Regions from separate parts of the Homo sapiens genome. Here regions 1 and 2 are each reported to be linked to region 3. Evidence: microRNA targets listed by miRTarBase, many of them from high-throughput screens and not tested one by one. Region 3 holds a microRNA gene; each other region holds the end of a gene's coding sequence. Distances are between the middles of the regions.

Region 1 (5,092 bases), not on the chromosome of region 3:
TATGTTTTGAATTAATGACGGCCGCACCTCCTTTCCTGTATTTATTTGGAATTGCCTGGTGGAAGGAGGACTCTGCTGCACTCACTGACTGTGTGATCTTTGGTAAATATCTTACCCTCTCTGGGCTTAGTTTCCCTAGTGGTAAAGTGGAAATAGTGATAACTATCTTAGATAGCTGTTGTGATGCCCACATGAGATAGCATCTGGCTTTACCCTTCCCTCGTCTGGCAATAACGGTTACCTTGCAGGATTGGCAGAAGCCTTAGAGTATGGTGCTTTGCAGATGTTCACCGTGTGATTAATGTGGTTGAGTTCCATGAGAGAAATGGTCTACTGTCTCCCTTTCAGGCTGCCCTTCTCCGAGCTGTGCGTAGGTTTCGGGGAAAAGCTGTGTGGGAAAGGCCTCTCCATGGGCTGTGGTGCTGCAGTGGGCAGGAGGATCCTAAGAGGTGGGTGGGCAGCAGTTCACCCATCTCGAAGGAGAAACTACCAAACGCAGAGACTGAGAAATTCTGGATGTTTTACCGTTTTGATGCCATCAGAACCTTCGGGTTCCTGTCACGACTGAAGTTGGCACAGACTGCCCTGACAGTGGTAGCTTTGCCACCAGGCTATTACTTGTACTCCCAGGGCCTCCTCACTCTCAACACCGTGTGCCTCATGAGTGGGATATCGGGCTTTGCCCTGACCATGCTGTGCTGGATGAGCTATTTCTTACGGAGACTGGTTGGTATCCTGTATCTGAATGAGTCTGGCACCATGCTGCGGGTGGCCCATCTGAACTTCTGGGGCTGGCGGCAGGACACATACTGTCCCATGGCAGATGTGATTCCCCTGACAGAAACCAAGGACCGGCCTCAGGAGATGTTTGTGCGTATCCAGCGGTACAGTGGGAAACAGACCTTCTACGTCACCCTGCGCTATGGACGCATCCTGGACAGAGAGCGTTTCACACAGGTGTTTGGGGTACATCAGATGCTCAAGTGAACAACTGGGACCTGGACCTCTGGGTAACCCTGGGTCGCCTGGATTAACAGGAAGGCTGAGGGTGTGGGCAAGGCTGAAGAAAGGGGACTGGGTACTTGGAGACTTTGCCTGGGCCCCTGGGAACATGTGTTTTGTGGTGAATAAATTCACAAGGCAAGAGCTGGTGTACAGGTTTAGGAAAAAGGCTCTAAGCAAGTTCTTACAGCACTTGTTTGTGACATTCAGTCAGATAATGGCCAGAAGTTTTTGTTAAGAGCCAGTTCTTAGAAGAACCTATGCCAAGGTCACCCATAGAGTCCATTGGTGTGAAAGAGAAAGGCAAAGAGGTGTGGCGGGGGAGCGTAAGATTTGGAGTCAGAAGTCTCAGTTCTGTCATTTGTCCTGGAGCAGGTTATTGAGTCTCTTTGAATCTTGGTTTTCACATCTGTAAAATGGAAAGTCCTGCTTGTTTCATGGGATGGGTGTGGGAATAAACAATAAATGTCAAACGTGTGGCAGACTCAACAGCCTACAGCAGATATTATTAAGCATTTGGTCAGAGGTTTTAGCAGGGAGAAAGGCTTCGAGCAGTCAGCAGGGACTTCCAGAGCCCTGTGCTGTGCCCCTCACATATCCAGCGGCAGAAGGGTCTGTCAGGATGTTAACTACACATTGACGAGCAGATGTCGTCCAGGTAGGCACGAAACCCCAGTTGAGATTTGTTCACCACCCAGAGGTCTAGAGGCTCTTGCTTTGGATGGCCCTGCAGTGTAATAAAGCCAAATGCACCGGATGCTGGTACGTTATTTTATAAACTTAAGCCAGTTATATACATTGCCCCACATAATTAATAATATATGTTCATTATACAATTTGTAACACAGTAAAGAGGAAGGAAGGCATGATCTTTATTATTTTGCCACTCGAAAGTCAATAAGAATGTTTTATCGCTGGGGGCGGTGGCTCACACCTGTAATCCCAGCACGTTGGGAGGTCAAGGTGGCGGATCACGAGGTCAGGAGATCGAGGCCATCCTCGCTAACAGGGTGAAACCGTGTCTCCACTAAAAAATACAAAAAAATTAGCTGGGCGTGGTGGCAGGTGCCTGTAGTCCCAGCTACTCGGGAGGCTGAGGCAGGACAATGGTGTGAACCTGGGAGGCGGAGTTTGCAGTGAGCCGAGATCACGCCACTGCACTCCAGCCTGGGCGACAGAGTGAGACTCCGTCTCAAAAAAAAAATATTTTTTTTTATTGTGTAGCCTTCCATTTTTCTTAACCATACCAAGATACACCTAACAAATTTATCCTTTTAATCATTTTTAAGTGTGCAATTCAGGGACATTAAGTATATTAACAATGTTGTACAGGCTGGGCACACTGTCTCATGCCTGTAATCCCAGCACTTTGGGAGGCTGAGGCGTGTGGATCACTTGAAGTCAGGAGTTCAAGACCAGCCTGGCCAACATGGCAAAACCCTGTCTCTACTGAAAATACAAAAATTAGCTGGGCATGGTGGTGGGCACTTGTATTCCCAGCTACTTGAGAAGCTTGAACCCGGGAGGCAGAGGTTGCAGTGAGCCGAGATTGCACCAATGCACTCCAGCCTGGGAGACAGCCAGACTATCTCAAAAACAAACAAAACAAAAAATGTTGTACAACCGTCACCACCATCTATTTCCAGAACATTTTCATTATCCCAAACAGAACTAATATACCCATTGAGCAATAATTTCCTTCTTTTTCCAGCCCTTGGCAACCACTAACCTGCTTTCTGTCCCTCTGGATTCACCTGTTCTGGATATTTCATATAAATGGAATCATACAATATGTGACCCTTTGTATCTGGCTCTTTTTTTTTTTTTTTTTTGAGTTGAAGTCTCGCTCTGTTTCCCAGGCCAGAGAGCAGTGGCGCGATGTCCACTCACTGCAACTTCCGCCTCACCAGCTCAAATGATTCTGCCTCAGCCTCCCAAGTAGCTGGGATTATAGGTGCCTGACGCCAAGCCTGGCTAATTTTTGTATTTTTAGTAGAGATGGGGTTTCACCATGTTGTCCAGGCTGACCTGGAATCTCTGACCTCAAGTGATCACCCACCTCGGCCTCCCACAGTGCTGGGATTATAGGCGTGAGCCAGTGCGGCTGGCCTGTATCTGGCTTCTTTGACTTGGTGTAGTGTTGTCAAGGTGCATCCGTGTTGTAGCATATGTCAGTGCTATTTCTTTTTTATGGTTAAATATATTTACGGGTGCAGTGTGTATTCTCTGTGTGTGCCACATTTTGTTTGTCCATCTGTTGATGGACATTTGAGTTGTCGTCACCTTTTGACTACTGATGAATGAACATTTGGCTATTGCTGTGAACACTGGTATACGAGTATCTGTTTGAGTCCCTGCTTTCAGTTGTTTTGGGTACGTACTGAGAAGTGGATTAACTGGATCCTGTGGTAATTCTGTTTATTTTTGAGGACCTGCCACTTTTCCACAGCAGCTGTACCATTTTACATTCTCACCAGCAACAGACAAGGGTTCCTGTTTCTCTACATTCTTGTCAACAGTGGTTACTTTTCCTTTTTTTTAAATTTGAGATGGAGTCTTACTCTGTCACCCAGACTGGGTTGCAGTGGTGTGATCTTGGCTCACTGCAGACTCCGCCTCTCAGGTTCAAGCGATTCTCCTGCCTCAGCCTCCTGAGTAGCTGGGATTACAGGCACCCACCACCATGCCCAGCTAATTTTTCTGCTTTTAGTAGAGATGTGGTTTTGCCATGTTGGCCAGACTGGTCTCGAACTCCTGAACTCGAGGGATCCACCTGCCTCGGCCTCCCAAAGTGCTGGGATTACAGGTATGAGCCACCACGCCTGGCCCTTCACTTCGATGCTTCTGTCCTGTGCTTCCATCCTTGCTTTACTTGAGTCCGTTTTTGCAGCTGTCAAAGTGATGCTTAAAAACAGAATCACGTCACTGCTGTGAAGGCTGATGGCCTAATCCACCCTCCCCTTCCCTCCCTCATCCGCACCTCTGTGGAGATCATTCCCCCAGGTCACGACTGCCTTGCTGTTCTCCAGTAATCGAGAATATTCCAGCCTTAAGGCCTTTGCATTGACAGTTCCCTCTGCCTGGAAGGCTTTCTCCCTAGATGCCTGCAAAGAGAACTAACCGCCTCCCCTTCAGTATCCTCTCGGTATAACAGGGTTTTACTATTTATGCTCAAGAAGTGTAGTGAAGATTCAATTATATAGAAGAGACATGTGCATAGCAGTTACACGTGGCTGTTCATTCCTTCTGTACCTTGCCTTCACCTGCCTGTCAGTTCCTTCAGTGACTGTGACTCCCTTCCCCATGAAGAGATAAAGCCTGTGGCTAAAAAATGTCTTAAGAAGTCATAATGATTTGACCTTAACCTCATTAAAACCAAAAATTCTCTCTGTTGGGTTGTAAGTAATGACCTGAGTGAGCCTCACCCCAGGATATTCTGATTATGTCTGGGGTGGATTTCCAGGATCTGTTTTTTTGACCAGCTTGAAGCCAATTCTGAGATTCAGGCAGGCTGGGAATTTCTGAAATACATTACTAGAACAGAAGACACCAGAGTGACACATGGTTCTGTGGACTTTGTGTTCCTGGGCCAATTTTCTGCCCAAAGAATAGGTTCTTAACACTGGCTTTATGTGTAGAATCTCCTGGAGAGTGTTTTAAAAACCCCATTGTCGAAGCCCATGACCAGGCATTTTTATTTTCACGGTTCCCTGGGTGATTCTAACATGGTTGACCATCGCTGCCTTTGGAGAATCACCACTCTGTTAAGTCTGCAAGGGGCTTGCCCTGGGAGGTGAGACCAGATTCTCACCCATGCAGGCATTCCATGTGTGGTCTGCTCATGCAGTACCAGCAGAGGGCACACAGAGCAAATGCATTATTCTAACGCTGTATCCCTAAGCTAAAATCACAGATGTCCACCAGATAACAGGAAATGTGTTAGGGCTTCTGTCATGCACCAGTAGGGTAGTACCTGAGAGCTGCCCCCAAAAAACCAAAGTCAACAACAGAAGCAATAAAAGGACTGGTGCAGTGGCTCACACCTGTAATCCCAACTCTTTGGGAGGCCAAGGTGGGCAGATCGCTTGAG
Region 2 (5,092 bases), 11 Mb from region 3:
TTCTTTTTAACTTTCTTCCTTGACTGTTTCTTATGCTTGTATTTTCTGCTAAGCCATTTATAAAGGCATTCACCCATTCCCCAAATACTCAGTTTTTGCTCCACAAAAGAAAGCACTCAAGAATAATTCCTCAGTGATTAGTATTTGAGGATTAGTTCTTCAGTAGTAGGTACTAGAGGGACAGGGAAGTGAAGCAAGGTTCTAGAGCCCCAAGATCCCAGCCTCAGCCCAGGGCCCCAAGGAGGAATTATAGGCATGCTAGAGAAAAGAGGCTCAGTTTGAGTGCCCATGATAGGAATAAGTAGCATGGCAGAGAGAAAACAGTGTTCAGAACCTTCATTGAGAACTACCATTTGTTCAGCAAAAGATGCCCAAGTCTCTCTTTCTGGTTAGAGCTCTTTCCCAAAGCAATGACTATGTTTTTGCTACCATGCCCTTTATTAAAAATATGAGTATGAGCATGAGAACAAGCATAACATTTTTAAAGCGAGAGATGGTAAAGGGAAAAATCATTTCAGCACTGTGCTCCAGATCAGTGTGGCAAAAAACAAATAAACAGATACCCCCAAGCAGCAGAGTCTGCAAGAGAGGAGCTGGTGGCAAAGGACTCCAGCATTGCCTTAGCACCAGCCACAAAAGTTCACTTCACCAAAAAGAGGAAGCCCCTGCCTTACCCTAGTACCCACAGGGGCAGACCAGGTACAGCACCCATCAATTCTCATCTTATGTCCATGGAACAAGGGAAGGGGGAATACTCCAGCTTTATCAGACACACTGGACACACAGCAGGTGTGGCAATGAGGTTATCCTTTTATTTGCCTATGAGGCTGGGACCAAAGTTCACCATCATTACCATACTGTACTCAGAACAGATTCCAAAAGTAACAGTAAAATTTCCTCCTTTTCCCTGGCATCAGAAGAAGGGGGGAATTCCTTTAACATAGGACCTTCCAATGAATTACTGGTCAATTCTCCTCATATCCTATGGCAACGGGCTTGCTACGCATGAGTAAACTTTGAGCTATAGGTTACCTTCTAGGGATATTGTTCCTTGTTTCCCATTCATAGCTGCCACATGGTTTACACACACATACACGTTTTTTTTTCAGAGACAGGGTCTCCCTCTGTCACCCAGGCTGGAGTGCAGTGGTGTGATCATAGCTCATGGCAGCCTTGAACTCCTGGGCTCAAACGATCCTCCTGCCTCAGCCTCCCAAGTAGCTGGCATTATAGGCATGCACCATCGTGCCCAGCTGACTTTTTTTTTTTTTGAGATGGAGTTTCACTCTGGTTGCCAAGGCTGGAGTGCAATGGCATGATCTCAGCTCCACAACCTCTGCCTCCTGGGTTCAAGTGATTCTTCTGCTCAGCCTCCCAAGTAGCTGGGATTAAAAAGATGTGCCACCACGCCAGGCTAATTTTGTATTTTTAGTAGAGATGAGGTTTCTCTATGTTGGTCAGGCTGTTCTTGAACTCCCAACCTCAGGTGATCCACCCATCTTGGCCTCCCAAAGGGCTGGGATTACAGGCATGAGCCACCGCACTTGGCCTCCAGCTGACATATACATACATATATATATACATATATATATATTTTTTGAAACAGAGTTTCACTCTTGTCACCCAGGCTGGAGTGCAGTGTAGTGGTGCCATCTCTGCTCACTGCAACCTCTGCCTCCTGGGTTCAAGCGATTCTCCTGCCTCAGCCTCCCAAGTAGCTGGGATTACAGGCATTTGCCATCATGCCCAGCTAATTTTATATTTTTTAAGTAGAGACAGGGTTTTACCATGTTGGCCAGGCTGGTCTTGAACTCCTGACCTCAGGTCATCCACACACCTTGGCCTCCCAAAGTGCTGGGATTACAGGCATGGGCCACTGGGCCCGGCCTGACTTCTGTATTCTTAAATCAAGAAGGGAAGGGTAAATATGAAGAAGTAAGGGGACTTAGAAATAGGAAGTAGAATGGTGGTTGCCAGAGGCTGGGAAGAGGGGAGATGGGGATTACTGTCTAAAGGATATAGGTGTAGAGTTTCAATTTTACAAGATGGAAAGAGTTACAGAGATGGATAGCGATGATAGTTACACAGTATTATTGAATGTATTTGATGCTATTAAACTGTACACTTAAAAATGGTTAGGATGAAAAATTTTGTTATGTATATTTTACCAGAACAAAAACAATTGAAAAGGAAAAAAGGCCGGGTGCTGTGGCTCACACCTGTAACCCCAGCACTTTGGGAGGCCGAGGCAGGCAGATCGCCTGAGGTTGGGAGTTTGAGACCAGCCTGACCAACATGGAGAAACCCCATCTCTACTAAAAATAGAAAACTAGCCAGGCGTGGTGGCACATGCCTGTAGTCCCAGCTACTCGGGAGGGTGAGGCAGGAGAATCGCTTGAACCTGGGAGGCGGAGGTTGCGGTGAGCCCAGACTGCACCATTGTACTCCAGCCTGGGCAACAAGAGCGAAACTCCATCTCAAAAAAAAAAAAAAATAGATCATTCTTTGCTCCATCTTTAAACATTTGGCTTCCGGTTTTAGCATATAGAGGTAATTTCTCAGCAATTTAAGCTACTTGAAAGCCATAATTTTATGTAATTAGTGGATTAAAATTTTAATGTAACAGTGGTGCTCTCTAGTGACCAGTCTTTTCCTTTCCTTGCATCTGATAAACAAGAGGGAGGGGAGGGGAGAATGTGGGAGGAAGACAAAGCAAGAAGGAAATCTAGGATAGGTCATTTGGGAATCCGGAGCAAGGAAGACCAGGTTTGTTTTCAGAGGGATGTGTACCCAGCACGCTCTCAGCTGGAAGGAGAAAGGAAAAATGAGCACTCTTGCAAGTGCACCCTGGGGGTGGTGACAGCAACACAGAGACAATGTGGGTGGCAAATCAAGGTGAGGGCAAGGTCAGTAGGGGTGGGGGAAAGGGAGGGTTGGCTTCAGTCTGAAAATTGCTCAGGCAGTGTTAGTTTCTTGCGCTACCACGCAGTCAACGCAGTTGCTTCTCCACCCCACTCCCTGAGGCCAGCTCAGGCTTATACTCACATTCCTCCCAAGAAAAAAACATTAGTAGAGGTTAAATGACCCCATTTGTGGGGTGGTTTATTGTTAAAATGATTAAACATGCTAAAATCACATGGAGTGGCTATTCCACTTTTGCCCTGACTCCATAGTGGGGCAAATGGGAACTACAGGAGTCACTTGGTTTGTGTGGCCTCTGGGGATGGTTAGACTTGGAGGGTTAGCGGTGAGCAGGTTAGCAAAGCCCCAAGCATCCTTCATGTAGTACACTTTTCCCAGCAGTAAAAAAATTCAGAGATTTCCCCCTTCTTCACTTTTCTTTCCTCCCTATATGTGCCCTACTTCTCATTCTCCTATGGCCCTGGAACCTCTTATGCTTCTGCCCGTTATGGTCTTAGACTAGATGATGAGGGAGGCTTTTCCTTGACACCAGCATTCCAGTCTCCCTTCCTTGGAACTAATCTACTCAGCATGCACTATTGTGGTAAGCTGCTTGATTTAGGTCTGCCTAGGGGGAAAACGAGGCTCCAGTCCCCACTGTGGCTTAGATCCTGGGAGGGGAAGTTGGAGTTGGTGCAGAAGGATCTGAAGGGGAAAAAAAATGTTACCTAAAGTGTGAATGCCGTAACTAGCAGAACAGTGCATATGTCCCACCCTCAGGCACCCTACTCTGAAAGCCTTCCCCTCCTTCCCACATTGTTCTTTGGGGAGATCTCTCAGCCTCGAAGCCTCTTGTTTAGCCCTACAGGGCAGGCATAGCTACTGATCAAAGAACCTTATACCAAGAAGAAATTGTTCCACCCTTAGACTAGTGACTGCTGATTGAAGTCTTCATCTTCTCCACCTCTCTTGTGCCTCTACTTCTGTGATGGCTTGAGGGGGCCAGATACAAGAGTATATAAAGGTTGAACTTGCCTCAAGGAAAGGCTAGAGGGACAAGGGATAAAGATACATGGGTGTGGAGAAGGGGAGAGAAGGGACCAGCATGAAGGTGAAGGTGAAGGGCAAGCCTGGCCATTCAGGAGCTGGGATCCTTTTTCCTTTTCTGAAATCGCCGGAACTTGCCCTGAATAGCAAGGGCAGCCTTCTCTGTTTCTGGTGCTGTCAGATCAATGTCAATCTCCTCCTCCTCCTCCGCCTTCTTGACATTGCCAGCTTTTCCTGCAGATAGTTGGGAGACTCATTAATGAGTTAATCTGACCTGCTCTAGACCCTTTCTCCAGGCCCCCAATACAGTGGGTAAGGTCCACCTTGTGCCAGACTCTGTGGGGTCCCCAAATTTTTGCTAGGATTATGAATGCCTGATAATTCCCCTAGAAGTCTGAGTCAAGGTACTTAGGCTGGGAATTAGCTATAGTTACTTAGGGGAGCTCTGCTACTCTTGGACCAAACAACAAATGTCTTCTTTCATCACTTATTCATAAATCCTACAGTTCAAGTTCCAATGCACACTCACTTTCCTCAGCTTTCTCTCAGTTTCTGATGGAGATAATGCTGGGACTTTTGATGAGTTTCTTCTTATCTTGTACCTCTCTCCCCCCAACACTCCAGACCCAGTTTCTAAAATCAAGGAGGAAATACTGATCGTTTACTTTCTAGGAAAAATAGAAGGAAGCCTATAGATATAGTACTGTAGTTCCAAACTGGTACTTTGTTTCACTTATCCACATTCTTATTCCTTTCATGTCTGACTTTAGGAAATTCCAGACTCACCCTACTTGTCTTTATGTCTCTACAGTCACCTGCTCTACAAACTGCCTAGCCCAACCCCACTCACCTTTTTCCTCTTGGCCAGCTGCCTGGTTGGTTGCTGGGGATGTTTTGGTATTAAGCTGGAAAAAATATTAGGATATCAGAATATTAGATATTCATGGAAGTAATTTGAAGGCATCATCACCTTAGACCTCTTATATACTCTCAAACCCTATTACCAGGTGCATTCCCTTAGTCTTTTGAAGAAGCAAGTCTTGAGATCAGAGACCAGAGGAAAAGTTATCAAAATTCATCCAGCAAAGATTTACTGATGCTAGAAAGTGTAGAGGACAAAACAGACAAAGAAATTCTGCCCTCA
Region 3 (5,092 bases):
CCAGGTTCACGCCATTCTCCTGCCTCAGCCTCCCAAGTAGCTGGGACTACAGGCCACCACCACCACACTCGACTAATTTTTTTTTTCTTTTTTTGAGACGGAGTCTCGCTGTCGCCCAGGCTGGAGTGCAGTGGCGTGATCTTGGCTCACTGCAGGCTCCACCCCCCAGGGTTCACGCCATTCTCCTGCCTCAGCCTCCCAAGTAGCTGGGACTACAGGCGCCCGCCACCTCGCCCAGCTAATTTTTTGTATTTTTAGTAGACAGGGTTTCACCGTGTTAGCCAGGATGGTCTCGATCTCCTGACCTCATGATCCGCCTGCCTCAGCCTCCCAAAGTGATGGGATTACAGGCGTGAGCCACTGCGCCCGGCCACACCTGGCTAATTTTTTGTATTTTTAGTAGAGACGGGGTTTCACGGTGTTAGCCAGGATGGTCTCGATCTCTGGACCTCGTGATTCACTCGCCTCAGCCTCCCAAAGTGTTAGGATTACAGGCGTGAGCCACCACGCCCAGCCCCTATATGTATATTTTTTGAAACAGAGTCTCACTCTGTTGCCCAGGCTGGAGTGCAGTGGTGCAATCTTGGCTCACTGCAACCTCTGCCTCCCAGTTCAAGCAATTCTCCTGCCTCAGCCTCCCGAGTAGCTGGGACTACAGGTGCATGCCACCACGCCCAGCTAATTTTTTATTTTTAGTAGTGACGAGGTTTCACCATGTTGGCCAGGCTGGTCTTGAACTCCTGAGCTCAAGTGATCCGCCCAACTTGGCCTCCCAAAGTGTTGGGATTACACGTGTGAACCACCGCACCTGGCCGACAGTCTGTATTTTACAGCACTTTTTAACTTTTCCTTTTTCCTGAATTAGTTGGTTTTCATTATCTTTTTTTTTTTTTTTTTTTTTGAGATGTTGTCTCGCTCCGTGGCCCAGGCTGGAATGCAGTGGCACAATCTCAGCTCACTGCAACCTCTGCCTCCTGGCAGAGTTCAAGTGACTCTCCTGCCTCAGCCTTTTTTGTAGCTGGGATTACAGGCGTAGGCCAGCACACCCAGCTAATTTGTGTATTTTTAGTAGAGACAGGGTTTCACCATGTTGGCCAGGCTGGTCTCGAACTCCTGACCTCAAGTGATCCGCCTGCCTCACCCTCCCCAAAGTGCTGGGATTACAGGTGTGAGCCACCATGCCTGGCCTGGTTTTCATTATCTTTATGAGGTGAATTTACTGGTAGGACAAAAAGGAATTAATAGCCTCATTTTATAGATGGGGAAAATAAGTAAGATTTACCCAAGGCCACCGCGCCATGGGGTTTTGCCATGTTGGCCAGGCTGATCTCAAGTGATCCACCCACCTTGGCCTCCCAAAGTGCTGGGATTATAGGCATGAGCCACCATGCCCAGTCTAAGTTCAGAGCTTTTTGCTCTACACATCTGCATTTCCCCTTGCTCCCTTGTAACTCATCCCATTCCATCTAGTAACTCTTCTTGTCCAGAACAGTATTTTCTTTTCTTTTTTTTTTTTTTGAGACGGAGTTTTGCTCTTGTTGCCCAGGCTAGAGTGCAATGGCACGATCTTGGATCGCCACAACCTCCACCTCCCAGGTTCAAGTGATTCTCCTGCCTCAGCCTCACAAGTAGCTGGGATTACAGGCATGTGCCACCACGCCCAGTTAATTTTGTATTTTTAGTAGAGACGGGGTTTCTCCATGTTGGTCAGGCCGGTCTTGAACTCCCGACCTCAGGTGGTCCACCCACCTCGGCTTCCCAAAGTGCTGGGATTATAGGCGTGAGCCACCATGCAGAACGGTATTTTCATAAAAAGCATGCCCTTTACTAAAGGTATTTTCCCTGTGCCTGTCAAATGGTGTTCATCTTCCTCCTGGACCACGCCCCCTCTCTCTACAACCCTTCCCTGTATGACCCATCCAGCTTGCTCACACCCTCCTGCTCCACCCCTCCACCCCCCTTAATACTGACATCATATTAGGGCATCTGAATTGGCTTCTGGGCCCTAGCAGGCTGTCCAGTGTGTGCCATCAAACGGGTTTTTAGAATGTGGGGACAAAGTTTCTTTCTCCTGTATTCCCCGCTCAGCTTATGAGAGTACAGGGCCAGGCTCAGTGGCTCATGCCTGTAATCCCAGCACTTTGGGAGGCTGAGAAGGGAAGATCACTTGAGATCACCCTGGCCAACATGGTGAAACCCTGTCTCTACTAAAAATACAAAAAGTAGCTGGGCATGGTGGTGCACACCTATTATCCCAGCTACTCGGGAGGCTGAAGCAGGAGAATTGCTTGAATCCAGGAGGCGAAGCTTGCAGTGAGCCAAGATCGCGCCACTGCACTCCAGCCTGGGCGACCGAGAGACTTGGTCTCAAAAAAAAAAAAGGGGGGTGCCGACAGAAAGTATCACCTTCCGATTCTCCTGCTCATCCCAGTGAAACCAGGAATTTTTTTTTTTTTTTTTTTGAGATGGACTCTCGCTCTGTTGCCCAGGCTGGAGTGCAGTAGTGCAGTCTCGGCTCACTACAACCTCCGCCTCCCAGGTTCAGGCAACTCTCCTGTCTCAGCCTCCCGAGCAGCTAGGACTACAGGTGTGTGCCACCACACCCAGCTAATTTTTGTATTTTTAGTAGAGACGGGGTTTCACCATATTGGCCAGGCTGGTCTCAAACTCCTGACTTTATGATCCATCTGCCTCAGCCTCCCAAAGTGCTGGGATTACAAGCGTGAGCCACCATGCCCGGCTCAAAATAGGAATCTTAACCTAACTCTGTCCCACAACTGACCGATAGCAGCTTCAGTCCTCCAATCTGTCCAGTATGCCGAAGGTGGGGGCCCTGGCAAAGGTCAACCAATGTGCCACACCTAGGAGAAAGAAGAGGCCAGTTAGTGATTTTCAGAATCTTCAGCTTCTAGCTTTCTCCCTCTCATGGTCTTTAGCTGACAGAAGAGGTGAAGAGAAAGGAACTGTCCTACTGAGAGAGGGCAATGGCAGATAAAAATCAATTCCCTGGCAGGGCGCGGTGGCTCATGTCTATAATCCCAGAACTTTGGGAGGCCAAGGTGGGTGGATCACGTGGTCAGGAGTTCGAGACCAGCCTGGACAATATGGTGAAACCCCGTCTCTACTAAAAATATAAAAATTAGCTAGGCATGGTGGTGCATGCCTGTAGTTCCAGCTACTCGGGAGGCTGAGGCAGAAGAATTGTTTGAACCCGGGAGGCAGAGATGCAGTGAGCCGAGATCGCGCCACTGCATTCCAGCCTGGGTGACAGAACAAGACTTCATCTCAAAAAAAAAAAAAAAAAAAAAAACTAGCCAGGCATGGTGGCACATGCCTGTAATCCCAGCCACTCTGGAGGCTAAGGCAGGAGAATCACTTGAACCCAGGAGGCGGAGGTTGCAGTGAGCCGAGATCGTGCTACCGCACTCCAGCCTGGGAGACAGACCAAGACTCCGTCTCAAAAAAAGAAAAAAAAAAAATCAATTCCCATTCCCATTTCTTTTTCTGGAGCAACACAAATTACCTTCTATCTTTCTTCCCTTATCGCATTTCTGGCCTTCTTCAATGCTTCCCCACCTCTCTGTTTGCCTTAATCTTGACAACTCTTACCCATATACTGTTGCTGTTGGACCTGTCACTTTCTCCTCAATCAAGTGAAGCTTAAAGGGGTTATCCTGGAAAAAGGTAGAAGGGAGATTGAAGAAAAGTGTTTATTCCCACAAAGATGTCCTGGAAGAGCCACCTCTTCCCTCCACCCCACCTTGAACAACTGGCGAAGCTGATCCCGTGAAGCCTCTAGCCTCCGGAAGGGTCGAGCAGCAGCTGTAAGTTCCTGGCAAATCCGCTCCAAAACAGGCAGCTCTGAGCCCCGGATTGTCCTGGAAAGAGGAGAATTGGTTGGGTTGCATCCTATGAGGTGCATCAATCACCTGGGTGACACACCTGTTGGCTAGCGGGTAAGGTCCTGTCCTTCAAGAGAAATCTAGAGTTATAGGCAAAGACAGACAAACTCAGAGAAAATATAAATAGGATATCAGGTAACAGATATTACAGCTGGAGAAAAAGCTCTATGCATGAAGTTAAAAGTTGAATGCAGGAAATCTGGATAGACAAAGTTAGAACAATAGTAATGAGGGCGATTAAGTAAAACTTGAATTTATGAAAGCTAACAAGTAACAAAGTAAGTTGTTTCTTCTTTTTCTTTTTGTTTTTTTTTTGAGAAAGTGTCTTGCTGTGTCACACAAGTTGGGTGCAGTGGTTAAGATCATGGCTCACCACAGCCTCAACCTCCCAGGCTCAAGTGATCCTTCCACCTCAGCCTCCCAAGTAGCTGGGACTACATGTGCACCAGCCAAGAAGGTAAATTTCAAGCAAAGTTAGAAGAGGGACATGGACTAGCACAGAAGGAGATACTAATGTCATAGTTGAGACCTAGAGAAACCCTTCTCCTCCAGCTTCCTCATCCAAATGGAGCATGCCCAAGGCCCCTGAAAAGAGCCTCAGAAACCATCCCAGAATCATTCTCCTCCTTCCTTTCATTACTCACCTCTCCTTTCCCAGGAAGAAATCATGGTAAAAGCCATATTCTGTACTTGGACCTCTGCAGAGAACAGCACCTAGGAATTGTTCAGCTGCTGCCCCCAGGACATGGGTGCTGGAGTGCCAGAACACCTGGGTTCACAAAAAAGGGGTTCACAAGTTCATAAACTTCTCCCTTAACCCCTAGATCTCTGAGCTCTTCCTCACAAAAGCTGGTAGGAAAGCCGGTATGGTTCTTCTAGGAATAACTACCACAAAATGGGGATCCTAGATTTTGGGGGTGACCACTAAAAAGTAACAAGCTTAAAAAAAAAGGCTGGGCACAGCAGCTCATGCCTGTAACCCCAACACTTCAGGAGGTCAAGGCAGGCGGATCATCTGAGGTCAGGAGTTCGAGGCCAGTCTGGCCAACATGGTGAAACCCTGTCTCTGCTAAAACATACAAAACTAGCCAGGCATGGTGGCGTGTGTCTGTAATCCCAGCTACTCAGGAGGCTGAGGCAGGAGAATCACTTGAACCCGGGAGGTGGAAGTTGCAGTGAACCAAGATCGC

Evidence for each region. Region 3 holds the annotated microRNA hsa-miR-6878-3p (CUGGCCUCUUCUUUCUCCUAG, at 2,862-2,882, opposite strand). A microRNA usually pairs through its seed, bases 2 to 8, with sites in the 3' UTR of a target mRNA and lowers its output. Matches are read on the target gene's strand: a 7mer-m8 pairs with bases 2 to 8, a 7mer-A1 pairs with bases 2 to 7 and ends in A, and an 8mer does both.
Region 1: the mRNA of TMEM186 is a reported target of hsa-miR-6878-3p. The part of its 3' UTR that is shown has no 7-base or 8-base seed match.
Region 2: miRTarBase lists PCP4L1 as a target of hsa-miR-6878-3p. Seed matches in the 3' UTR shown: 7mer-m8 at 3,212-3,218.

The regions. Positions count from the first base shown.
Region 1 is chr16:8,791,847-8,796,938 of GRCh38, reverse strand. TMEM186 (transmembrane protein 186) reads left to right here. Exons shown (of 2, transcript NM_015421.4): 2 at 349-1,759. The coding sequence ends at 987. Among named protein-coding and RNA genes, the nearest start is that of TMEM186, 3.2 kb to the left of the region's middle. RefSeq lists a silencer at 4,780-4,959.
Region 2 is chr1:161,283,429-161,288,520 of GRCh38, reverse strand. It overlaps PCP4L1 (Purkinje cell protein 4 like 1), which reads right to left. Exons shown (of 3, transcript NM_001102566.2): 2 at 4,799-4,853; 3 at 3,071-4,182. The coding sequence ends at 4,040. It overlaps LOC105371472 (a long non-coding RNA gene), which reads left to right and starts at 4,178. Exons shown (of 2, transcript XR_922213.2): 1 at 4,178-5,092.
Region 3 is chr1:150,490,180-150,495,271 of GRCh38, reverse strand. MIR6878 (microRNA 6878) reads right to left here and starts at 2,927; the gene lies at 2,862-2,927. TARS2 (threonyl-tRNA synthetase 2, mitochondrial) reads right to left here. Exons shown (of 18, transcript NM_025150.5): 4 at 4,547-4,671; 5 at 3,761-3,878; 6 at 3,610-3,674; 7 at 2,783-2,861.